2 separate regions of the Homo sapiens genome follow, and region 2 is linked to region 1. Evidence: fine-mapped expression QTL. A gene starts in region 1. The other region holds a variant in brackets. All regions are shown on one strand. Distances are from middle to middle.

The links. PIP is the estimated chance that this variant, and not a neighbour inherited with it, causes the effect.
Region 2: its variant is the best candidate, but not a certain one, in a credible set for the expression of GFPT2 in thyroid (GTEx, PIP 0.90).

Annotation. Positions count from the first base shown.
Region 1 is chr5:180,351,007-180,356,369 of GRCh38, reverse strand. GFPT2 (glutamine-fructose-6-phosphate transaminase 2) reads left to right here and starts at 3,034. Exons shown (of 19, transcript NM_005110.4): 1 at 3,034-3,159. The coding sequence starts at 3,153. RefSeq lists a silencer at 2,778-3,007 and an enhancer at 4,380-4,880.
Region 2 is chr5:180,389,766-180,395,128 of GRCh38, reverse strand. No RefSeq gene overlaps it. Among named protein-coding and RNA genes, the nearest start is that of GFPT2, 39 kb to the right of the region's middle. The variant G/T (reference allele first, on the strand shown) is at 2,960.

The DNA of each region.
Region 1 (5,363 bases):
CATGGCTCCCCGTGTAAGCACATGTATGGGGTCCAGCTGAGAGACGCTCCTGGGCACGGCCCTGCATCTTCCCTCCTCCTGGGCCCCCTGATCCAGACCAGGTCTCCTTTCTGGGCTGCCACCGGCTTCCTGCCTACCCACTCCCCTGGGCCTCAGACTTTAGTTCCAGCACGATCCAAGAGTCAGGACTCTACTTGGTTGCAAATGACAGAAGTCACTTCAGAGTACCTCAAGCAAAGATGAGAATTTATTGAGCCCTGATACTGAGAAGTCCAGGGATAAATCCTGGCTTCAGACCTGGCCGAATCCAGGGGCTCTGATGTGTATCGTCTCCATCCTAGATCCATCTGCCTTGCTCCGATTGCCCCGCTCTTCAGTGGCCTCTCTCCACCCCACTGCAAAAGTGATGAGAAGGTCCCAGCATCATCAGGACATTCTCCTACCAGCCACACCACTCAGGAGAGAATAAGCCATCTTTTTTACTTAAAAAAATTATTTTGTAGAGACAAGGTTTTAATATGTTGTCCAGGCTGATCAAGCAGTCCTCCCGCCTCCTGAGTAGCTGAGACTACAGGCACGTGCCATCACACCTGGATTTTTGTTTTGTTTTGAGACAGTCTTGCTCTGTCGCCCAGGCTGGAGTGTAGTGGTGCAATTTTGGCTCACTTCAGCCTCCACCTCCCAGTTTCAAGCCATTCTCGTGCCTCGGCCTCTCGAGTAGCTGGAACTACAGGTGCACATTACCACACCTGGCTAATTTTTGTGTTTTTAGTAGAGACGGGTTTTGCTGTGTTGCCCAGGCTGGTCTCGAACTCCTGGGCTCAAGCAATCCCAAAGATCTCAAACTTTTGCCCCCCAAAGTGGTGGGATTACAGGCATGAGCCATTGCACCCAGCGTGCCTGGCTTTTTTTTTTTTTTTTTTTTTTTTTTTTTACTTTTTGTAAAGATGGGTCTCCCTGTTGCCCAGGCTGGTCTCCAACTTCTGGCCTCAAGCAGTTCTCCCACCTCAGCCTCCCAAAGTGCTGGGATGACAGACCCAAGCCACTGTACCAGGCCAAGTTCATCTTTTCTGCTGGTTTCCCTCATGTGCTGGAGCAGGTCATCAACGTCCCAGCCTGGGCCATATGCTGACCTCTGAACCACTGCCCAGGCTGTGTGGCCAGGCCCAGGCCATCAACCTCCCAGATGACTCTCAGAGGGTTCTCAAAGCAGGAGTGATGCTAGGCCGGCAGCTGCTACAGACACATCCCCATGGGTGGTAGTGTGCACTCATGCCGTTCCTCACCGTGGACCTGTGACTCCTCCAGGAGGATAAAGGACAGATTTGGACCCTGCTAAGACCCCAGGGCTCCTGGGGTCTTGGTGCTATCAGAGGGCCTGTTGACATCACCCTGTCCCCGCCTCAGTTACAACAGTGGAGGCCAGTCTGGGCCAAACAACCTGATCTCCACATTCAAGTTCTAGCCCTCATCCAGGGGACCTTTGCACTGCCTGCTGCTCCCTCCTTCCTGGCTTCGCTAGGCTCTGGACCACCTGCACCAGCGCAGCCCTGCCCAGTCCCAGGCAGAGCCTGGCACCCTCTCCACCGCTGGCCCAGCCCCCTCCTTGTATCCTACCTGGAATTTTTAGCTCTCTGTGTAACCACGAGCTTAGTGTCTGCTTCCCCTTCACTTGTAAGTGCCAGGAGGGCAGGGCCAGATCTGTTCTCATTCATCAATAAGTCTCTTGCACCTGCACCCTGACAGGTGTGAAGTGGGTTCTTAGGAATGAGAGAAGGAAGGAAGGAAAGCGACCCTGCATAGTGGAGGGTTGGGGGCAAACGCTGCGGCTCCTGAATCGCTCTGAGATTTCCCAACAACAGGACTCACCCAAGCCCCCTCCTTCGCTGTCGTGGAGCCTCAGTTTTCCCAACCCTCCAATGGCACAACCTCCTTCCCCCAGGGCTTGCAGAGTCGCGGTGAAACTAGGGAGGGATTATGTTAGAAAAATGCTCTAGACGAGATGTAAAAATCTTTTTTTTTTTACACGACTGAGGAGGATCCGTTTAGAATTTCAGGATTTTTTTAAGAAAAAAAAAAACTTCAAAGTGCGCAAACGTTGGGCCGGTTCTCGTGACCTTCCTCGGGAGACGAGGGGCCCAGAGTGCAGGGGGAACGGGAGGGACGGCCGGGAACCAGGGCGGAGAAACGCGGGCCTTGGTGCCTCACTGGGGGGTCGGATTCCGACCCCAGGCGTAGGAACCCCCGGGTCCCTCGCGGGCCTGCAGCGCGAGGCAGATCTGGGGAGGGGGCAGCTCGGCGCGGGTGGGGTCGGGGCTTCCTGGGGCGCCTCCAGCTTCGTTCACAACCTGCGGAACCCTCGCCTTCAAGCTCGGGCTCCGCGGCAAATCCCAGGGTCGAATTCTGCCACCGCCGCGGCGTCCGGTTTTGGCAGAGTCCTTGTCTGCCTCCGGGAGCCTCGGTTTTCTCGTCTCTCCGCCAAGCCCGGGCGTTCTCTCCACGCAGGGTGAGGGCCAGGCTTAGAGGTCTGCGGAGCTCTGAAACAAGCCTGTCACTCAGATGGGAGCGCGGCAGGAACAGCGGCTCACGCGGGTTTCCGGAGCGCGCGAGTGATGCCGGACCCCTCGCTCTGCCCCTTACGCGGCCCGTCTGACTTCTCAGCACCCCGTGGGAGGGAGCTTCCCTGGGTAGCCCCGTTTCACAGACGGGAAAGCGGAGGCACAGCGCGATCGGGCCCTGCCCGGCTTCCACGCCTACTCTGGTTGAGTCGGGGTCTGAACTCGGGCCGTTGGTTGCCCTAAGCCCCGCTCCGGGATCTGGCGCCCGGCGCCCCAGCCTTACACGCCCGACCCGCGCCTGGGAGCCGCCCCTCGGCCCCCCTCCCTGGCTCCTGGGGGCCGGGTCCCGTCGTTGTCACGACAACCGGGGGCCAATGGGAGCAGGCGGGCGGGGGAAGCCCCGCCCCTTCCCCGCCCCCTTCCCCGCCCTCTCGGAGGGCTCCGGGTTATAAGGGCTGGAGGCCGAGCGGACGGGAGCTGGAGCCCGCGGAGCCCACGGAGCCCACGGAGCCCACGGAGGAGCCCACGGAGGAGCCCCAGCGTCCGAACGGGCAGACCCCCTCGAGCCGCGAAGGAGCCCGAGAAGCAGCCACGATGTGCGGTGAGTGCCGCGCCCGCCCGAGCCGCCTCCTCCACGCCGTCCGCGGGTCCCGGCGCCGCAGCCTCTCCGCGCCTCCGCCCGCAAGCAGGCGCCGAGGACCTGGCTGGGGGCGCCGATCTGCCCCGGGCCCCTACCGAGGGGCTGTCGTCGGCCGGGCCTGGCTGCCCCTCACCCGCGTTCCCCGAGTGGCCGTCTCGGAGGTGTGGGTGGGGGATGCCCAACCCGACTCCTGGTCTCGGACACAGTGAGGGGGACCGAGGCCCGGTCCCCACGGAGGGGAGGGACCTGGTCCGGTCCGGCCTGGACCCCGTAACAGAGGGGTCCCCACCCCATGCCGACCGAGGTCGCTCTCCTCCACGTCTCCCAGTCGCCCACAAAGGCGGCCACGCGCAGGCCGGCGCATCCCGAGTGCGGGGCGCCCATCCCGACTCAGCCCGCCGCGCCCACCGAGGAGAGGAGAGGCGACCCCGCCCCGCCGTCCCCGCAGCCCGCCCGGTCGCCCCCGCTGCGTCAGTGCCTCAGGCAGGGCCTGCGCGTCCTCCTCGCGACCCCAAAGGAACGTCTGGTCCCTAGAAGGGTCGCTGCCGCGTTACCGCCTCTTTGCGCGGGGAAGAGGCAGTCACTGCCCGAACCTCGGCCCGAAGCCACGAGAGGGAGTCCGGGGCGGGGAGCGGGGCCGGGCGTCCGATTCCCGCGGCGCTCCCGCGCTGTCCCGCGTGGCTGCGGGACCGTGGGGAGGGCGGCCGCGGCCCGGAGCGCACATCTGCAATTCTTTACTCTCCTGGCTGGGCCGCCTCCGCTGGCCGGGAGAGAGCCGGGAACTTCTGCTGGGACAAAAGGTCACTGTGCTCTTTTTTTTTTTTTTTTTTTTCCTTGAGTAGGATTCGGTTACCCATTCCAGCCTCCTGTGGCTGGAGGACCTGGAGGAACTTTCGAAGCCATGAAAGGCCTCTCTCTGACTTTGCTGAGGGCCGGGGTGGGGTGCGCCCGCGGTGAGCCCTGGCCGAGGTCTGTGCAGGCCTCTTGTCTCGGAGGCCAGCTGCTCGGCAGAAGGGAACGACCTACGGCGGAGCGGGCAGCGTGCTTCGGGATGCCGCCTCACCCAGGCTGAACAGGCATCCGTGGAAATTCCTGAACCCTCAGCTAAAATCTCGTGCTCCCAGACGCCATTCTCCATGTGTAGAGCCACCTTTGGGTGTTTCTGGGGGCAGAGATGAGGCAAAGGTGGTAGTTTTGCCAGATGTCCAAGCCCTGATGTTCCACACCTCTCAGTGTAGCATTCAAGACCCTTGGCCAAAACTGGTGGCCTTGGGGCCAGACTTGTGCAGGAGACCCTTGAACCAGGAGGGTCTGCCCACAGCACCAGAGGCTCCCCTTCCCCTTCCTTTCAGATGCTCCTCTGCCCCCACTGCCACCCCTGCCTGTCATCCTCCTTCCTACTGGCATCTTGCTTTTTCCCAAGTCTCTCTGAGCTTTGGGGGGGCTCTACCTCCTCCAGCTCACAAAATCACAAGTGTTTTTGTTCTGCTTCTTAAAGGGACACACACGCGTTGTCTCCTAGGGAAAGGTTGAGCTTTGGGGTGTGACCACCTGTATCTTCAGATTTTCTGGTACTGACTTGTGGTTGTATGTGAGAAGGAGCTTGAGGTCCCCAAAGGACACCCAGGGCTCAGGAGTGGCTGCGGTCCATGGGGGTGCCCACTCGGAGCCAGAATCAAAGAGTGCGTGCTGGCTTAGGTGCCTTCTCAGAATTCCCAGATTTGCTGATTTGGGGCTGGGGGCAGGGTGGGGGAAGTGGGGAGGGCACAGCTCAGCAGGAAGTCGTGGAATCCCTGCATGGGAAAGTTATTTCCTTTTCAAGAACATCAGGAGAAAGTTTCAACTTGGTGCTAACGTGTCCTTAACATCTCTCTGACACTTGCTTAAGTATCCTGTGCAGAGGGGAAGCCATTCCTGGCTCAGAGCAGGCAGCAGCAGCTGGCTAGAATTGAATACATTGGTCTGTTTGGGGGGGATGATGGTCTGAGTATGTATGACAAGTGATACTGATTTTCCTTTTATGGTTGTTTTCTTTTGGCATGAATTCATTTAAATTTTTGAAAATTTAATCAAATTCTGCAGAAGAAAAAGTAGTGATTATGCTATTAGTACAAGGATACTGCAAGAATCGTGAAGATGCTCCTAGAAAGAACCAGATAAGCTCT
Region 2 (5,363 bases), 39 kb before region 1:
TTTTTGTATAATTAGTAGAGACGGGGGTTCGCCATATTGGCCAGGCTGGTCTCGAACTCCTGACCTTGTGATCCGCCTGCCTTGGCCAAGGCCTCCCAAAGTGCTGGGAATACAGGCGTGAGCCACTGTGCCCGGCCTTTTTTTTTTCTTCTTCTTCTTTTTTTTCTGAGACAGAGTCTCCCTCTGTTGCCCAGGCTGGAGTGCAATGCCGCAATCTCGGCTCACTGCAACCTCCACCTCCTGGGCTCAAGTGATTTTCCTGCCTCAGCCTCCTGAGTAGCTGGGATTTCAGGTGTGTACCATCAATCCTGGCTAATTTTTGTATTTTTAGTAGAGACGGAGTTTCACCATGTTGGCCAGGCTGGTCTCGAACTCCTGACCTCAAGTGATTCACCCGCCTCGGCCTCCCAAAGTGCTGGGATTACAGGCATGAGCCACCTCGCCCAGCCCACGATTGCTTCTTAACCCAATAACAACATTAATCTTTCTTGTTCTTCCCATCTCCTAGGTAAATGTTATGAAGAATCATCAAACTTCCCCTGCTTCCGGATGGCGCCCAATTCAGAACCCACTTACATTCCTGGAAACCCTCCTTCGGCTCACCCAGCATGAGCCCACATCCTAGAGGCCTCTCCCAACTCAGTCCTTCCCGTCTGTGTGCACTCCCCAGTGGCAGCCCAAGCTTAAATGAGGGAATGGTCCTGGTGGTCCTCCGCTGGGGGCGCTGGGGCAACATGTGTTCATACATTCTTTATTCAATGACTTTTACAGTCTGACCCACACTTCTTCCTTTCTTCCCAAGGCTTCAGGCTGCCTCGTCCCAGGGTCCGACTCCATCTCCAGCACTCAGGCCCCCTAGGACTAGCCTAGATACACGGACCTCCTGGGATGGGGAAGCACTGTCTTAGCATTGACCAGAGGGGCAGCTTCTGAAGGCCTGACCTCAGCACATGCAAAGGGAGGAGTTCCCAGTCGGACCTGGCAGCCTTCCGGGTATGCGCCCCTGTCTGAGGAGCACACCTGCTCACTCTCAGGGTAGGCTGGACTGAGGAATTGACCGACCTCACCTGTTGGGTCAAGGTCAGCCTCTTTACTCTGTGTCCCCGGTGAGGGACAGGGCCCAGCCCTGATCAGGGATGTTCTGGTGGGGGGTCAGCTCTGAAGAAGCCATGGGGAAAGAATGCTAAACTCAGGGAAGCAAAGGGCAGAACTGAGGGTGGAGGTCAAAACCCATCCCTGCTCAGAAGAGAGGACAGGACCCATGGGGAAAGCAGGAACAGGCTGAAGCCCCACAGGTCATTCTGGACACCATGGCTGAGGCCACCCCCCGTGCCTGCCATGGGCAGATGCTTTATTCTCTTTCTTTTTCTTTTTTCTTTTTTCTTTTTTTATGCCTCACCTTGCTCTGCCCTGCCCTGCTTTGCTTCTTTTCTTTTTTTTTTTAGATGGAGTCTCGCTCTTGTTGCCCAGGCTGGAGTGCAGTGGCACAATCTCAGCTCGCTGCAACCTCCGGCTCCTGGGTTAAACCGATTCTCCGGAGTAGTGGGGATTACAGGCACCTGCCACCACGTGCAGCAAATTTTTGTATTTTTAGTAGAGACGGGGTTTCACCATCTTGGCCAGGCTGGTCTCGAACTCCTGACCTCATGATCCACCCGCCTCAGACTCCCAAAGTGTTGGGATTACAAGCATGAGCCACCACACCCAGCCTCTTTTCTTTTCTTTCTTTTTGACAGAGTCTCGCTCTTTTTGCCCAGGCTGGAGTGCAATGGCACCATCTTGGCTCAATGTAACCTCCACCTCCCAGGGTCCGACTCCATTTCCAGTGATTCTCCTCTTTCAGCCTCCCAAGTAGCTGGGATTACTGGCATGCACCATCACCCCTGGCTAATTTTTGTATTTTTAGTAGAGATGAGGTTTCACCATGTTGGCCAGGCTGGTCTCAAACTCCTGACCTCATGATCCACTCGCCTCGGCCTCCCAAAGTGTTGGGATTACAGGCATGAGCCACCGCTCCTGGCCTTTTTCTTTCCTTTTTTCTTTTTTTTTTTAGAGACGGAGTTTTGCCGTGTTGGCCAGGCTGGTCTCAAACTCCTGGACTCAGGCAATCCGCCTGCCTTAGCCTCCCAAAGTGCTGGGATTTCAGGCATGAGCCACTGTACCCAGCTGGCAGATGCTTTATAAATGCCTCCACAAGCCTCTGTTTTGGGGGTCTCAAGATCACCCTCGAGTTTGATGTTTCGCTAGAAGAGCTCACATGATTCAGTAGCAGGCTATATTCACGGCTAACCTTTATGACACAAAGGATACAAAGTCAAAGCGACAGTTAAGAGGTATGCCCGGGTGCTGGGAGGCCAAGGCGGGCGGACCACGGTGTCAGGAGATCGACACCATCCTGGCTAACACGGTGAAACCCCGTCTCTACTAAAAAAAAAATACAAAAAATTAGCTGGGTGTGGTGGCGGACACCTGTAGTCCCAGCTACTCCGGAGGCTGAGGCAGGAGAATGGCGTGAACCCGGGAGGCAGAGCTTGCAGTGAGCCGAGATCACGCCACTGCACTCCAGCCTGGGTGACAGAGTGAGACTCCGTCTAAAAAAAAAAAAAAAAAAAAAAGTGACAGGTGCGACTTGAACCTAAGGCCATGAGGGGAGGGCACATAACAGTTAAGAGCACGGACTCGGAGGACAGATAACACTGTTCCTAGTGTTGGTGCTGCTCTGAATCCCAGTGTTGCCATGAGCAATTCCAGCCCATCTGTAAACAAAAATAAAAATAATAAGACTTAGCTCAGAGGACTGTTATTGGAATGCATGAGATAGTTCAGTGAGGCCGGGAGTGGGTGGCTCACGCCTGTAATCCCAGCACTTTGGGAGGCCGAGGCGGGCAGATCACCTGAGGTCAACATGGGGAAACCCCGTCTCTACTAAAAATACAAAAATTAACTAGGCATGGTGGTG[G/T]GCGTCTGTAGTCCCAGTTACTCAGGAGGCTGAGGGAGGAGAATCACTTGAACCCGGGAGGCGGAGGTTGCAGTGAGCCGAGATGGCGCCACTGCACTCCAGCCTGGGTGACAGAGCAAGACTCCGTCGAAAAGAAAAGAAAGAAGGAAGGAAGGGAGGGTGCAGCGGAGGTGCCTAGTGCAGTGCATGGAACACTGCGTGTGAGTCACGCGTGCAGATGAGCGATCAGGATTATGGTGATGATGATGTAATAAGGAGAAGGGAGTGAGGAGGTGAAATTGCTCACCAGAACATCTCTTACGCTCCGGTGAAGTGGCAAGATGCGCACCTTCACTCCAAGGGGACTGCCCCAGCTCAACTTGGGGCACCCTGGCCTTCCAGCCCCCCAGAGCCCCTCCTCACTATGTCGGGAACAGCAGACAGGGCCTGGAGAGGTGATCCTGGCAGCCTCCTTAAGACAGGTCCAGGCTGTGGGTCCTGGCTTGTTGGCATGTCAGCTCTGATGGGGTCCACAAGGAAGGGAGGCTGGGGGTTTGGTAAGGGGAAGAGCACCTTGAAGGGCTCAGCCTGTGCATGCAGGGTGTATGGGCCTGGGGCACCCGGGGCCCCCATTGGTCTGTTCTCCTGTGCCCAAGAGGGGAATCAGTTCCCAGCGCCTGCAAACTATTCTAAGGCCCGGCCTGGGCTTTGGAAGCATGTCCCCAGGTGTTTATTGGGGGCAGGACTCCAATGAGGTCCTCTGCATGGCTCACCCAGAAGGGGTGGCAGTTCACTGAGCAGCCAGGTTGGTGGCCACCATCCAGCCCTCACAGGGGCAGCTCGACTCAGGCAGAGGGGGTGGAGGATGTCTACACCTGGCTCTGCCTCCCGTGGGCGGTCACCGTGGGTCTCTGGGCCTCAGTAGCCTCATTTGTAAACTGGGGCAATGTTTCAGTGAAAAGCAGAGGATGCAGATGGCCACTGGAGGCCATGCCAACCCACAGACTTGTGTTAACTGGCCCTCATGGAGCATTTTCACATTTTGAACTGGTTGCTACATGTTAACATCAGAAGGCATTTACCTAATATCTGAATTTCCAGCCTCTCTTTAAAGATGGGGTGGGGCCGGCTCTGTGGTCTGGCCACATGTGACTTGTAGTTCCACGAAGCCACAGGCGGGTGGTGCTGGGCAGCAGCCACCCCTGCAGATAGTCACCTCCCTTCCCAGTTGGCCACAGCCCCAGCGGCTACTGATTCTCCAGCACAGGCCACCACGGTGACTCTCCCACGGGAGTCAGAAGAGCCAGGTCGCACCGAAGCCTCCCCAGCTCCAGTCAAGGCTCCACCAAGTTCCAACCGTGCCCTGATCCTGCACAAGGGAAGTCACCCTCCCACCATCCAGCTGTGGACATGTGCAGGATGGATGGAGGTTGGGAGGGGGTGACTGCAGAGGCCCTGAGTGGGGCCATGCTGCTGGGTCCTCACCTTTCTCCTTCATGCCCAGGTTGGGGATAATGGAGGCCCCAAGGCAACCTGAGCGAGGTTGGCAGCCGCCTCCTGGCCTGGGGTTTGTGGCCAGAGTGGCGAGCACTTGGAAATGACACACGGGGGGCAGGCAGGCCAGGGATGGGCAGGAAGGAGGCTTCCTCACTGTTAGAGCCAGACGGCCTCAGGGACCTCCCTGGATGGGAGGGGTCCCCATCCGAAAGCTGGTGAGGTGGGGCCTCACCTGTCACCCTTGAGCACTGGGGACCCAGGATGTGGAGTGCTCAGCTGCACTGAATCTGTGTGGCTCCTGGGGTCCCTCTGGGAGGAGAAACAGAAGAAGCTCGGGGCAGAGGGGTCAGCGTGGCCAGGGTCCCAGTCCTTTGGCCCTTGAACTTGGCCTTTCCCAGACAGCCCTTCTTGGCATCCCAGCCTGGAATCCCTTTCCTTATCTTTCTTTGGCAAGCCCCTTCAAGACACAGTGGACAAATTTTCCCCTTCCAGAAGCTTCCCTTGACCCACAGGCAGAATAATTCCCTTTCTTCTGAGTGCCCTGTGCCTGGACGTTCCCTGCTATGCTGCTGGCTGGCTGCTCTGTATTGTGCTAAAATATTCACGACCGTGTCCCCACCAGGGATCCCGGAGGCAAGGGCCACCCTCCGTGTCCCCAGCACTTACGCCTAGGCCTGGCACACACAAACGTCGAGTACTTCTCATCCGTGGCTCGCGGGGCAGGGCCGGCATGTCCTCCTTGAGCCGCCCATGTCCCTGTGCTCCTTGCGCAAGCTGCAGGCCCACCCCCAGGAGCGAGGCCCTGTGGCGTCAGCGCCCATGTGCAGCAGGTCCAGGGGACAGGAGGGGTCTGCCTGATCTCAGAGGGGTGTGTGCGGGACGAGCGTGAGGTCATGCTTGTTTACGAGGCTCTGACACAGAACCATCG